Regions from separate parts of the Homo sapiens genome. Here regions 1 and 3 are each linked to region 2. The links come from fine-mapping of genetic effects on gene expression. A gene starts in region 2. Each other region holds a variant in brackets. All regions are shown on one strand. Distances are between the middles of the regions.

The links. PIP is the estimated chance that this variant, and not a neighbour inherited with it, causes the effect. A credible set is the group of variants that fine-mapping cannot tell apart.
Region 1: its variant is the best candidate, but not a certain one, in a credible set for the expression of CCDC167 in whole blood (INTERVAL, PIP 0.69).
Region 3: its variant is the best candidate, but not a certain one, in a credible set for the expression of CCDC167 in whole blood (TOPMed, PIP 0.72).

The regions. Positions count from the first base shown.
Region 1 is chr6:37,551,161-37,555,392 of GRCh38, reverse strand. MIR4462 (microRNA 4462) reads left to right here; the gene lies at 1-28. Among named protein-coding and RNA genes, the nearest start is that of MIR4462, 2.1 kb to the left of the region's middle. RefSeq lists enhancers at 1,011-1,511, 4,084-4,232 and a silencer at 1,366-1,660. The variant C/T (reference allele first, on the strand shown) is at 2,201.
Region 2 is chr6:37,497,704-37,501,935 of GRCh38, reverse strand. CCDC167 (coiled-coil domain containing 167) reads left to right here and starts at 2,043. Exons shown (of 4, transcript NM_138493.3): 1 at 2,043-2,114. The coding sequence starts at 2,073. RefSeq lists an enhancer at 1,851-2,050.
Region 3 is chr6:37,358,059-37,362,290 of GRCh38, reverse strand. RNF8 (ring finger protein 8) reads right to left here. Exons shown (of 8, transcript NM_003958.4): 2 at 1,717-1,845. It also overlaps the pseudogene RN7SL273P. Among named protein-coding and RNA genes, the nearest start is that of RNF8, 6.2 kb to the right of the region's middle. The variant G/AG (reference allele first, on the strand shown) is at 1,852.

The DNA.
Region 1 (4,232 bases), 53 kb before region 2:
TTCCTGACACGGAGGGTGGCTTGGGAAATGAAAAGTGAATGGGTTGCTAAAATGTTTTACTTCCCCGGTGTTGTTGGTGGGGCTTTAATGAGGAGCCATGCATCACTTGGCCCCCTCGCCCCGGCAGATGATAAAGGGCCACCGCTCCCCGCGGGCCTCAGAACAACCCACCACTGCCTGGCTTGTAAATTGTTATGGCCCAATGAAGAGCTTGCCCTTAAATGTCACTCACCCAGGAATTAAGGTGAAGACAGGCACAGGGACTTGCCAGTGGCACGGCCCAAGGTGGGGGCTAGCAGGAGTGGGCCCTGCAGGATGGGGTGAGGGGCAGACTCCTCGGGAAGGGCAGTTGGATACCAGGTCTGGGGTTAATGAAAAGTGCCCCCTGCCCCCTAAGTGATCATTATCTCCAGTAATTATCCTTGCTCCTGGGGGGAAGCAGGGAGGGGCGCACTGAAGAGCTGTCATTAGAATGGACTGGCTAAAGAATCCAGACCTGGCGCACTGGCCTGGGGTCCTCAGCCTCTCTCCCCCTCTCTCTTCCCCATTCCATCTCCCCGCCACCCCACCTGTCTTCCTCCCCACCTCCACCTCTCTCCCCCCTCCCTGCCAATCTTTCTCTCTCAACCCAGTTGCCTGCATGGTTCACAGGTTTCTCTTTGCCCTGTGGACCCCAGGGTAGATTGAGAAGGAATCTTAATGAGTCTGACTCAGGCCGGCATCACGCAGGCTGCCCCGCTGTCTAGCTTCATTTTCTAACTTTGGGGGCACGGAAAGGTCGGCTTCCACCTCTTCCCTGGAGGCCCTTCTCTAGAAGAAGGTAGAACTTCAGGTGCCTTCCAGGAAGAAAGTGAGCTTTAGGTGCTTCCCAAGCGTGACCCTCTTCCCTCTCCTGTAACCTTTTAGCATTGTGGAATAAATCTCACGTCCAGAAAAGGGCATGAAACAAATGTTTCATTAACACATTATTTCAAAGCAGAGTAGCCACCACCTCAGTCACAGACCAGAACCTCACCAGCACCCAGCAGCTTGCGGATCCCTTCCCGTTGACCTTCTCTTCCCCAGAGGTCCCAGGCAGTCGCTTCCTACCTTTCTCTGTGTGTTCCCTCAACAACGTGCTTCAGTTTTCCCTGTTTCTGAACTTTATATAAATAGAGTCCTGCAGGATGCGGTGGCTCATGCCTGTAATCCCAACACTTTAGGGGGCCAAGGTGGGTGGATCACGAGGTCAGGAGTTTGAGACCAGCCTCACCAACACAGTGAAACCCCGTCTCTACTAAAAATACAAAAATTAGCCAGGTGTGGTGGCACGCACCTGTAGTCCCAGCTACTCGTGAGGCTGAGGCAGGAGAATCGCTTGAACCCAGGAGGCGGAGGTTGCAGTGAGCCGAGATTGCACCATTGAACTCCAGCCTGGGAGACAGAGCGAAAAAAAAAAAAAAAAATAGAGTCCCATGTACGCATTCTTTCGTATCTGGCTTCTTTCAGCCAGCCTGGAGGTGTTTGTGTGACTCATCTCTGTGGCTCGGGTAGTCACAGTTCATTCATTCTCATTGTCCTAGAGAGCTTGTCACTGTCTGCATGCTACAGCCCTGCCACCCATCTCCCCAGCCCACATGTCACCAGCTGCAGCATCTTCAAGTTTTGGGGCTCCTGTGCAGGAGGGATGTGACTGATCCTTCCTGCCAGGAAATTCCCCTTAGGTCTAACCTCTTTCTCCCTCACCCACACTTTGCTGGTTTGCTGCCTCTGATGAAGTCAGGGGAGAGGAAAGATACAGCAAAAATAACACATCAATAGCATTTGCAAGGCATTTTTCAAGTATGAAGCACTTCTTAATACACTAATTAAGTGAGATGGTCATTATCATCCTGTTCTAAGCATTTTATATTTTTAACTCATTTAACCCTCAGAACCACCTTTGAAGTAGGTGCTATTATTATCCCTATTTTATAGACATGGGAACTGAGAAGTTAAAGAATTTGTCCAAGGTAGGGTTGCCAGATAAAATACAGAATGAGCAGTTACATTTGAATTTCAGATAAGCAAGGAATTTTTTAAAGCATAAATATATCCCAAACACTGCATATTAAATTCAAATGGGCATCTTATATTTTTGACTTCCTGAATCTAGCAACCCTAGTCCAAGGTCACAGTGCAAGTAACAGTAAAGCCAAGATTCAGACCCCAGCTCCTACCC[C/T]ACAGCCTTGTGCCCTTAGCCACTGCTCTCCTGTTACAGTGGGACCACACTAAGGCCCTGGCGTCCAGGGAGAAAAGCAGATGCATTTGAAACTGTTGAGTAAATCAAACAAGCAAGGCTAGGAAACAGATTTGCTATGGAGGCTAAAGGAGAGGGAGGAATTAAGAAAGGAGTTCAGGCCGGGCACAGTGGCTCACGCCTGTAATCCCAGCACTTTGGGAGGCCGAGGCAGGTGGATCACCCGAAGTTGGGAGTTTGAGACCACCCTGACCAACATGGAGAAACCCCATCTCTACTAAAAATACAAAAATTAGCCGGGCATAGTGGCGCATGCCTGTAATCCCAGCTACTCGGGAGGCTGAGGCAGGAGAATCACTTGAACCTTGGAGGTGGAAGTTGCCGTGAGCCGAGATCGTGCCATTGCACTCCAGCCTGGGCAACAAGAGTGAAACTCTGTCAGAAAGGAAGGAAGGAAGGAAGGGAGGGAGGGAGGGAGGGAGGGATGGAGGGAGGGAGGGAAGAGAGGTCAGTTTCTGGCTCCAGTAGGCAAGATTCAGACAGGAGGCTTCTTGCTAGGAATCGCCCAGCTCAGAGGAGACAGGGCATCTCCCAAGGCTGGGTCACCTGGGGGCTGGTGGCCAACCCCTCCAATCCTCATTCTCCATCTGGTCTGAAGGGATTTGGCTCAGCCCTGCCTGGCTCAGATACTTCAATCCTTCCATTTCTCACATGGCCCCAATCTCCAGCCTCAAAATTCATAAACAAACCACCTCATCCAACTGCTAGGCTCTCACCAGGGCCTGCCCTCTACCCTCCGTGGGCCCTGTGCCAGGGCGAATTGCCCTCTTTGGATGGGATGCAACCGAAAAGCCTCCCAACTGTAAAAATCACAAAATGTTTGGGATGGTGTCAGAGGCTGCAAATGTGGATACGTGCTTTTATTTTGCATAGAATAATGCATTTAATTACTTCTTCCAGGGGAAGCCTGTTTGGAAGATAGTTGAAGGCAATGCTAATAATAGCACTTTGCACCGAGGGCCTCAAACGTAGAGGAAGAGCCATGAGAGCATTTCATTTCTGTTCCTGAGAACTTGAAAGCTCCTGCAAACACTTGCGCCTTCTTCCTCAAGAGGCAGAGGGAAATGTGAAGAAAATGCTGCGGGTTTTCGCTTTTAACTCGCTGTTTTGATCCTCTGCAGCCGCTAGGATATCGGACTCCCAGAGAGACTGGGCGGGGTAGAGGGTGGTTATTGTCTGGTGGAAAGAGTGTGGAACTGGGGGACACAACTTTTCTTCTCCTTCCTTCTACCATACCCCAAAGGGCAGGGCCAGAGGGAGCCCCCCAAAAATGCCTGCCCTGGCTGAGGCTGTTTTATGCACAGAGCACTGCACAGTGAATCAGGATAATCTATTTTGCCAATTTGGTAAATTATGCTCCTTCTCTGGCCTTGGTCCTGCCCTAGGGTGTTAGGCAAATTGCTTAACTGCCCCGAGCCTTGTGTTCCTCATCTGTAAAATGGGCTCATAATGATACCTGCATAGAGGCATGCTATGAGGGTTAGATGAGTCAGATCATATGAATGGGCTTAGAACAGCGTCTGACCCACAGGAAGAGCTCCATAACAATAACAATTATTAGTTTCTGAGCAATGAGGAGTTTTGAACCAGATCAGGGACCAAGGAGATAAGGGTGCGAAGGGTGTAAGGAGACCTGGTGTGAGGCTTTAGGGAGCAGAGCCAGCTGTGGAACCCGGAGACAGCAGCCTGTGTAAACAAATTCAAATGTAAATTCTAAAAATGCTCTGCAAGCCAAACACAGTGGGTCTGTGGAGTGTGCAGAGCTCTGGGACCAGCAGTTTCAATGGGCTGAGCTTTATGGCTCCTTCTACCATGACAAATCTCTGTTATTTAAGTTCAGGCTCTACCACTCAAATATGGAACCAGCAGTGCCTTAGAGCCCTTCAAGTCCAACCAACCCCTTCACCCATTCTACAGGTGAGGAAACTGAGACCCATAGAGGGGAAGTGGCTGT
Region 2 (4,232 bases):
CATACTCTTTGACCTAGTAATTCTACTTCTGTGAATTTATCTTAAAGAAAGAATCCAGAGGACAGAGCTGTGTGCACGAAAAGGTTTGCTTTCGCAATATTTGGAGTTACTGTCAATAAAATGATGTCCAATGCAAGAATGCGAGAGACTCCCTTGGTGGCACATGAGGCCACCGCAAGTGATAATTTCAAAGACACAGAAAAACATACTTGGCAGTGTTTTTCAAATTGCAGTTCAACCTCCATTAAGGGGTCATGAAATAAACCTAAGAGGTGTCCTGCCACCAACTTGTTTTTGTTTATTTTTTTGAGATGGAGTTTCGCTCTTTCACCCATGCTGGAGTGCAGTGGCACGATCTCGGCTCACTGCAACCTCCGCCTTCCAGTTTCAAGTGTTTCTCCTGCTTCAGCCTCCCGAGTAGTTGGGTTTACAGGCGCCCACCACCACGCCCAGCTAATTTTTGTATTTTTAGTAGAGACGGGCTTTCACCACGTTGGCCAGGCTGGTCTCAAATTACTGACCTCGTGATCTGCCCAGCCTCCCAAAGTGCTGGGATTGAGAGGTAAAGCCAGCTGGACTTCCTGGGTTGAGTGGGGACTTGGAGAACTTTTCTGTCTAGCTAGACAATTGTAAACGCACCAATCAGCGTTCTGTGTCTAGCTAAAGGATTGTAAATGCGCCAATCAGCACTCTGTAAAAACCCACCAATCAGCGCTCTGTGTCTAGCTAAAGGATTATAATGCACCAATAAGCACTCTGTGTCTACCTAGGGATTGTAAATGCACCAGTCAGTGCTCTGTAAAAACGCACCAATCAGCGCTCTGTGTCTAGCTAAAGGATTGTAAATGCACCAATCTGCACTCTGTAAAAATGCACCAATCAGCACTCTGTGTCTAGCTAAAGGACTGTAAATGCACCAATCAGCACTCTGTAAAATGGACCAGTCAGTGCTCTGTAACAGGGGACAAATAAGGGAATAAAAGCTGGCCATCCCCCAGTCAACAGTGGCAACCCACTCAGGTCCCCTTCCATGATGTGGGAGCTTTGTTCTTTTGCTCTTCACAATAAATCCTGCTGCTGCTCACTCTCTGGGTCCGTGCTACCTTTAAGAGCTGTAACACTCACCGTGAAGTCAGTGAGACCAAGAACCCACCTGAAGGAACCAACTCCAGACACAGGATTACAGGCCTGAGCCACCGTGCCCGACTTTGTTTTTTTTTAATTAAATAGGCAAGAATACAAAATAACAGAGTGCATTACAGGAGGTAAAGGTACTTACTGTGAAACTTTGGTTTTGGTTTCATGGGTAACTGGGCCATGGTATAAAATACATTTTTTTATCGTAGGGTCACAGTCAAAACATTTCAAAGGCCGTGGGTCTATGGTGTACAGTATAGTACGATTACAACAATGTAAAATACTGTGTGTGAGGCCAAGCCTGGGAGGAATAAACAGAAGCAAAGAGGAACTGATAAAGTTGGTAGAATAAAGGATGCTGCTTCTCAGTTATATGTTTTCTGTGATGTTTGTAGGTTGTTCTTACAATAAAACAAACCAAAAAAAAAAAAAAAAAGAAGTCAAGACACAAAGGAGAAATAACAATAGAGGGCCATTATCAGATTCCATTGGCCGAGAAGCTCAAGGCTCCAGCACCGGCCTTGAAGGATGGACAGACTTTGAATGGGGGGCGTGGCCTAAACAGGGACGGGGTTGTTGCTGAAACACAAAACACACTGAAAGAGAACATGGGGTTAAAAAAGGCTCTCAGTGATGCAAAGCGGCTTAAAACTGGGGAAGAAAGGGGCAGGTCTACTCCCGGGCTGTACATTCTGCCTCCCTGTACCGACTTTTCCACCCTCCACCCATCTAGGCTGAGGTCTCAAGCTAGAGGTTGCCCCTCATAAACATGTCCGCACCAAGCCGGCCGCGCCCCTCAACAAGATGGCGACGGCAGCAGCCCCACCTCCCGCTGACTCGGTGGCCAATGAGGGAGAAGCACGAAGACTTGAGCATGCGCACATAGCGACTTGGTGGGCGCGTCCAGTGATGACTGGGGGATCCCGGCAAGTAACATGACTAAAAAGAAGCGGGAGAATCTGGGCGTCGCTCTAGAGGTGAGGGGAAAAGTGGGGGTTGGGCCACCTCGTTAGTTGCCTTCTCCTGGCCGCGGGATAAGGGATAGGCTGGGCTATAGATAGGAGGAGGAGCCAAGCGTAGGATGAGAGGGCGACGCGGTTTGGGGAGAGGGACGGGAGGGGTGAGAAGGCCCACGGGGTTCCCGGAGGACAGGGAGCCCGAGGAGGTGCCGGATGGGCGAACCAGACTCTCTGGAGAGGGCATCTCCAGAGAGGAAGAGACATGGAAGTGAAGGGGAGCCCCAAAGACGGCCTGGCATAGAAGTGAGGGAACTCAAAGCGGGGGACACAGAACAAAAGGGATGGGTACAGAGGTGAGGGAGACCCCAGAGAAATAGGGACCTGTAGAATCTAAGGAGAACTCCCAAAGGGCTAGGACTCAAAGATGAGGGAGCCCATTCTGGTGTATATTATTAATGGTTTAAATATCCTCTAAAAGGGGAAATTTTTCCTCCGGAGTATGGAAGCTTGTACCTTCAAAATTACTTTGGGAATATGTAAAGAGAATTCTGGAATTGGTGATGTCACTGAATGGCTTAAAAATAATTTGCTGCATATAGAAGGGAAAGAAAACATACATACTGAGCAACCGCTATGTGCTACTTTCATTGCATTGTTAATCCTCACTGCAAGCCTGTGAGGTTTGTACAGATGAGGAAATTGAGGTTCCAGGTGGAACCCAGGCTGAGATGGTGGAAGTGGTGGAGCCTGGGAATCAAGCACAGGTGGTCTTCCTGGAAATTCATCTTGCTTCCCCTGTTTTCCTTCCCTTAGGGCATCCTCCCGGAGGTTGCAGGAGAGGTACAGGGTCATAGTCTTCTTCAGGCTTACTAGTGAGTTCAGTGATTCTCAAACTTTAGCATGCATAGAGTCACAGGGCTTGTTAAAAATGGAGAGTTGAACTCTTCCCACACCCCGAGTAATTCAGTAGGACTTTGATGTGCATTCTTAACAAGGAATCTGCTTTTTTTTTTTTAAGACAGAGTCTCGCTCTGTTGTCCAGGCTGAAGTGCAGTGGCGTGATCTCGGCTCACTGTAAACTCTGCCTTCTGGGTTCAAGCGATTCTCGTGCCTCAGCCTCCCGAGTAGCTGGGATTACAGGCACGTGCCACCATGCCTGGCTAATTTTTGTATTTTTGTAGAGACGGGGTTTCACCGTGTTGGCCAGGCTGGTCTTGAACTCTTGACCTCAAGTGATCTGCCCGCCCGCCTTAGCCTCCCAAAGTGCTGGGATTACAGGCATGAGCCACCACAGCCGGCCAGAATCTGCATTTTTTTTTTTTTTACAAGCCACACACACCCCATGGTGATGTGGGTAGTTTTAGTGGCATCCCTTGAGAAATATTGGCCCACTTGGTAGGAAAAAGGTTGATGGAAATGTGAAGAGGATGGTTTATGAGTGGTGACTGAGATGGTACTTTGTGGCGGGAAGAACATAGACTTTGTAACCTGCATTAGGGTACAATAAGCTGCAGTAACAGAGAAACTCCAAAACTCAGTGGCTTCAAGAACAAGAAAGTGAGTTTTTTTCTAACAGGCTAGAGCAAGGGGCAGGAGATGTCTGCAAATGGTCAGATAGTAACTATTTTAGAAGAGACATGGTCTCTTCTAGAGAGCCAAATGGTCTGGGTTGCAACTACAGTTGATCCTCATTATTCACAGATTCCACATTTGCGAATTTCCCTAATGGCTAAAATGTATTTGTAACCCCAAAATCAGTACTCACAGTGCTTTTGTGGCAAATGCAAAGCAGTGGGAAAAAAATTGAGTCGCTCGCAGTCCATGTTCTCAGCTAAAGTTGAACAGGTGATGATGCCCTGCCTTGTTTCAGCTGTCCTACTGTAAACAAGGGTCCTTATTGTGTTCTATTTAGTGCCCTGTTTTTGTTTTGTTTTGTTTTTTTCATTCTCATGTTTTTTATTGGTATTTCGCTGTGTTTTGCTTTTGAGACAGAATCTCACTCTCGCCCAGGCTGGAGTGTAGTGGTGCACTCTTGGCTCTGCAACCTCCACCTCCCATTCAAGTGTTCACCCCCACCTTCCCCCGACACAGCCTCTCTAGTAGCCAGGATTAGACCACCACCACATCCGGCTAATT
Region 3 (4,232 bases), 140 kb after region 2:
TGAAGTTGATCAGCTGTTGGCTTCCCAACCTATGAAAATCTGCTAATCCCATAAGTGGATCACATCTACACTGCACATAATTAAGAAAAGCAGCAGCAGAGAACTCACCTCTATAATATTGTAATCCTAACTCTCATACAGCCTACTCTGATGAGGAAAACATCTTTTCCTAAGCTGTTTTGATATACGCTATTACAGAGGCTTTAAAACCTTGCAGCTATATTTTAAATATGCATAATTAATTGTTTGACGTCATAAAGCCAGTATAGCAAATTGCTTACATACTTTACTGATACTTGACACAGGGCATAGCAGAGAAACTTAAGTCCTGGCTCATTATAGAGAAGGCTTTGGGCAAGACAGTTTATCTCTCTGGGCCTCAGATTCATCTGTCTACATAAGGGGTTAAAGTAGATAATCTCAGTGCCAATTTTTATCCTGCTCATGGTGCCTTGCTAAAAGTGCTGAACTGATTTACTTAGCATTTATGTACTGTCTCCTTCAATACAGTGCCAACTCAACTTAATTCTAGAGCAGGAAGATACTTTCCAACAGCTTAAATCTAGCAGTTTTATGCACGCAATATGAGGATGGCAGGCAGACCTGTGGGATACCCTCCCTTCTAATGGTACCTTTAAAATCCTAACTGGGGCAGTGAAGCAATATGAAATGGCACTTAAAGACATGTTATACTTCCTAAACATTAACTGTTTATGTTAGAATTTCTCTCACCTCATAGTCTGTATTTTCATCACATTCCTCGGTGCTTGTATATCTGCACTTTAGGTATCTTCTTTTCTTTTTGATAGCGACAGGGCTTCACTATGTCAGCCACACTGGAGTGCAGTGGCTATTCACAGGTGCAATCCCTTTGTTGATGAGCACAGCAGTTTTGACCTGCCCTCCTTCCAACCTGGGTCAGTTCACCTCTCCTTAGACAAACTGGTGGTCCCCTGCTCCCAGGAGGACACCATATTGATGCCGAACTTAAGGCAGACACCAGAATGGCATAGCACACTATAACCCAGAATTCATGGGCTCAAACAATCCTCTGGCCTCAGCTTCTCCAGTAGTTGGGACTACAGGCATGTGCCACCACACCCAGCACATTAGGTACTTTCTAATTGCTGGGCTTCATATACTATTGCACCTCCCTCAATATATTTACCACTAAACTAGTGGTTTTCAAATTTGTTTAAAGGAGAAAAACCCATTATTCAAAGGAAATCTTCGGAACACCAATATTTAAAACATGTTTTAAAGGCCAGGGGAGGTTGCTCAGATTGAAAGGAGTGAGGAAGGAAAGGAGCTAAGCGCAATCAGATCAGTTTCTCCCTCCTCCCCTTGTCCACTGAGCCATAAGTGTACTCCAGAAGCGTCAGCAGATTCTGCAGATTCCCAGGGTCTCTGGGAGCTTCACCTCAAACAGGCTTATTTGCCCAGTAACTTAGTCTAGTTTCTGGAATAGGACCTACTACCCCAATTCAGGTATTCTCTTCAAGTTAACAAACTTTAACCCAAATCAAGAGAAATTATTTTAGCATAATCGAATCTCTGGCAGCATATGGAAGTGGCTGCCTCTGGAAAAGGGAACTGGATGGCTAGGAAAGAAGAAGTTATACTTTTGAATTTTATACCATGAATTACCTATGCAAAAAAAAAAAAAAGTAATTTAAAAACAAATAAAAGTCATTAGGCTTCTGTGAATTCCTGTACCTTGTTGTCCATAATTGTCCATTGGCCCTCAGGATTCTGCTTCAAAACACAGTGGTTTCGAGAAATCATCAGGGGGCAGATTTTTGATACCAGTTGGTATGTGACACCAAATCCTCGTCCTACAGTCACCTGGGA[G/AG]ACAACAACAATGCAAGAAATACCATCAGTCATTGTGCTGAAAAGGGAGGTCCTTTACAAATCTCATCAACCAGCAGCATATGCAGGTCCTGACTTAAGAAACCAGACACCTGTGGAACCAAAACAGTGCATCAGCTATCTCCTCTTCAGCTGTCTTGAGAACCACCAAGTAGAAAAAGGCAAACGGTTGTGACAACAAGAGAAAGCTGAAAAAGAGTTATCCATGTATCTCAGGGTTGCCAAGATCTTGAAAGGTCATCTGGTTCAATGACTATGAGATAGAGGAATTCTTTCTACACATCCCATCAACGCATAAATACTGTCAGTAACTTTACATAAGGCAGGCCCTCCAATTTTTAAAATGTCTCTGACTTGGCATTTTTCTCCTTGTAAATTCCATCCATTGGCCCTGGCTTTGCCCTGGGCACCATCGGGAAATCTCCAATCCCCTTTCAATGGCACAGATATAAAGTGAACACTGAGTTTTCTCTTTTCCTGGTTCTGTATTCCCAGTTACTTCAACTTAACTCCCAGGGGATGGGCTTGAGCCTTTGCCATTCTAATGAGTCTGTGAAGGGACTGCTGGTTTATCTTTATTCCTGGATGGCATATTAAGAAAAATAAACTTAATTTCTATTACACAGTCAAACGCAAGTGTTACTTTCCCAGTTCTAGATATTATCACTGGAGCATATAAATTGCATTAGCTTTCATAGCAGATCTAGTACACTGCCAGTGTATCCTCGAACTTAGGAATGATTAAATTTCTTGGTCTCCCCCTCCTCCAAGAAATGCTATCCTAAGTCCTGTCTCTTCTGCTCTATACTTGACTGGATGGAAAACCTTGGATTCAAGCGCAGGACCTTAGATTGATTCCTATTAAATTTCATCTTGCTAGTTCAGCCTATCAAACCAATTTGTCAAGACCTTTCTGAATTTTTAATCTGCCATCAGATCAGACATACTTAATATCTCTTCCACCAAATTTATGAGATGATGCCTTCTATACCTTCGTTCAAGACACAGAATGGGATGCAGCCAAAGGCAAAGTTTTCAGGAAAACCTAGTAAACATTAACCCACACCATCTGGATATACCTTCAGCCAGTTATAATTCAACCAAAAGTCTTTGCATTGGAGTACATATTCTCTGTCTTATCCACAAGAACAGCTTGAGAGCTTCCGGAAAAGGTTGAAAAGAAGCCCCAGTTCACATCTATCATACTTTCCTGTTGGACCAGTCTAGTTCATAACAACCCTGTGAAGGAAGGAAATGAAATTCTTCTGAGTTCCAGATCACAGAATTCCCTTATTCTTTTTTGTTTGTTAATTTTTTTTTGTTTTTTTGAGAGAGTCTTGCTTTATCACCCAGGCTGGAGTGCAGTGGCACGATCTTAGCTCACTGCAACCTCTGCCTCCCGGGTTCAAGCAATTCTCCTGCCTCAGCTTCCACGTAGCTGGGATTACAGGCACGCACCACCACACCCAACTAATTTTTGTATTTTTAGTAGAGACGGGGTTTCACCATGTTGGTCAGGCTGGTCTCGAACTCCTGATCTCAAGTGATCTGCCTGCCTCAGCCTCCCACAGTGCTGGGATTACAGGTGTGAGCCACCGCGCCCGGCTCCCTGCATATTCTTCTTAGTGCACAAACGACCTCTTTAATGTCCCATATCACAACCTTAACTGGGAACTTTAAACCAAAGTTAGCTAAAACTGCCCTCTTCTCTTCTCTTTAAAATCTTTCAGAATGCCTGTCCTCCTCAGTCCCTCAAAGACCACCACGACTCACTGACCTAATCTATTCCTCCCCACAAACTCTTATCTCAGTATTCACAATACTATCCAACCAACTACTCAACCCATAACCCAGAAGCCATCTTTGATTCATCTCTGTCCCTCATCCCCACATTGAAATCACTGGTAAATTATATGGGCTATAATTCAAATATGTCCTAAGTCTGTTCATTCCTATCTCTGCAGCCACAGCCTTAGTCCAAACCACCTGGCCTCCTACTGTTTCTGTTCTCACTCTAGCCCCCATAAGCTTTATAATAGTAACTGGAATAGAAATGTAAAAATTTTAAATCAGGTCATTTTCCTTCTTTCCTTAAAACTGTCCAATCATTCAAACTTCCTTCCATGGCCTATAAGACCCTGAATGTCCTGAGCCCTTCTACTCTTTAGTCTTAACTCATACCATAGTGCCAACACTAGCTGCTCCAGCCCCTCAAACTTTTTTGTTGTTGTTGTTCCTTAAGCCCATCTCCCCGAAGTGCCAGCCTACCTGAGGGTCTTTTCACTTAGCCCCTCTGCTAAGAACACTCTTCTCTCAGATCTTGCACAGGCTCCTTATCTTTCATGTTCCAGCTACTCATAAGC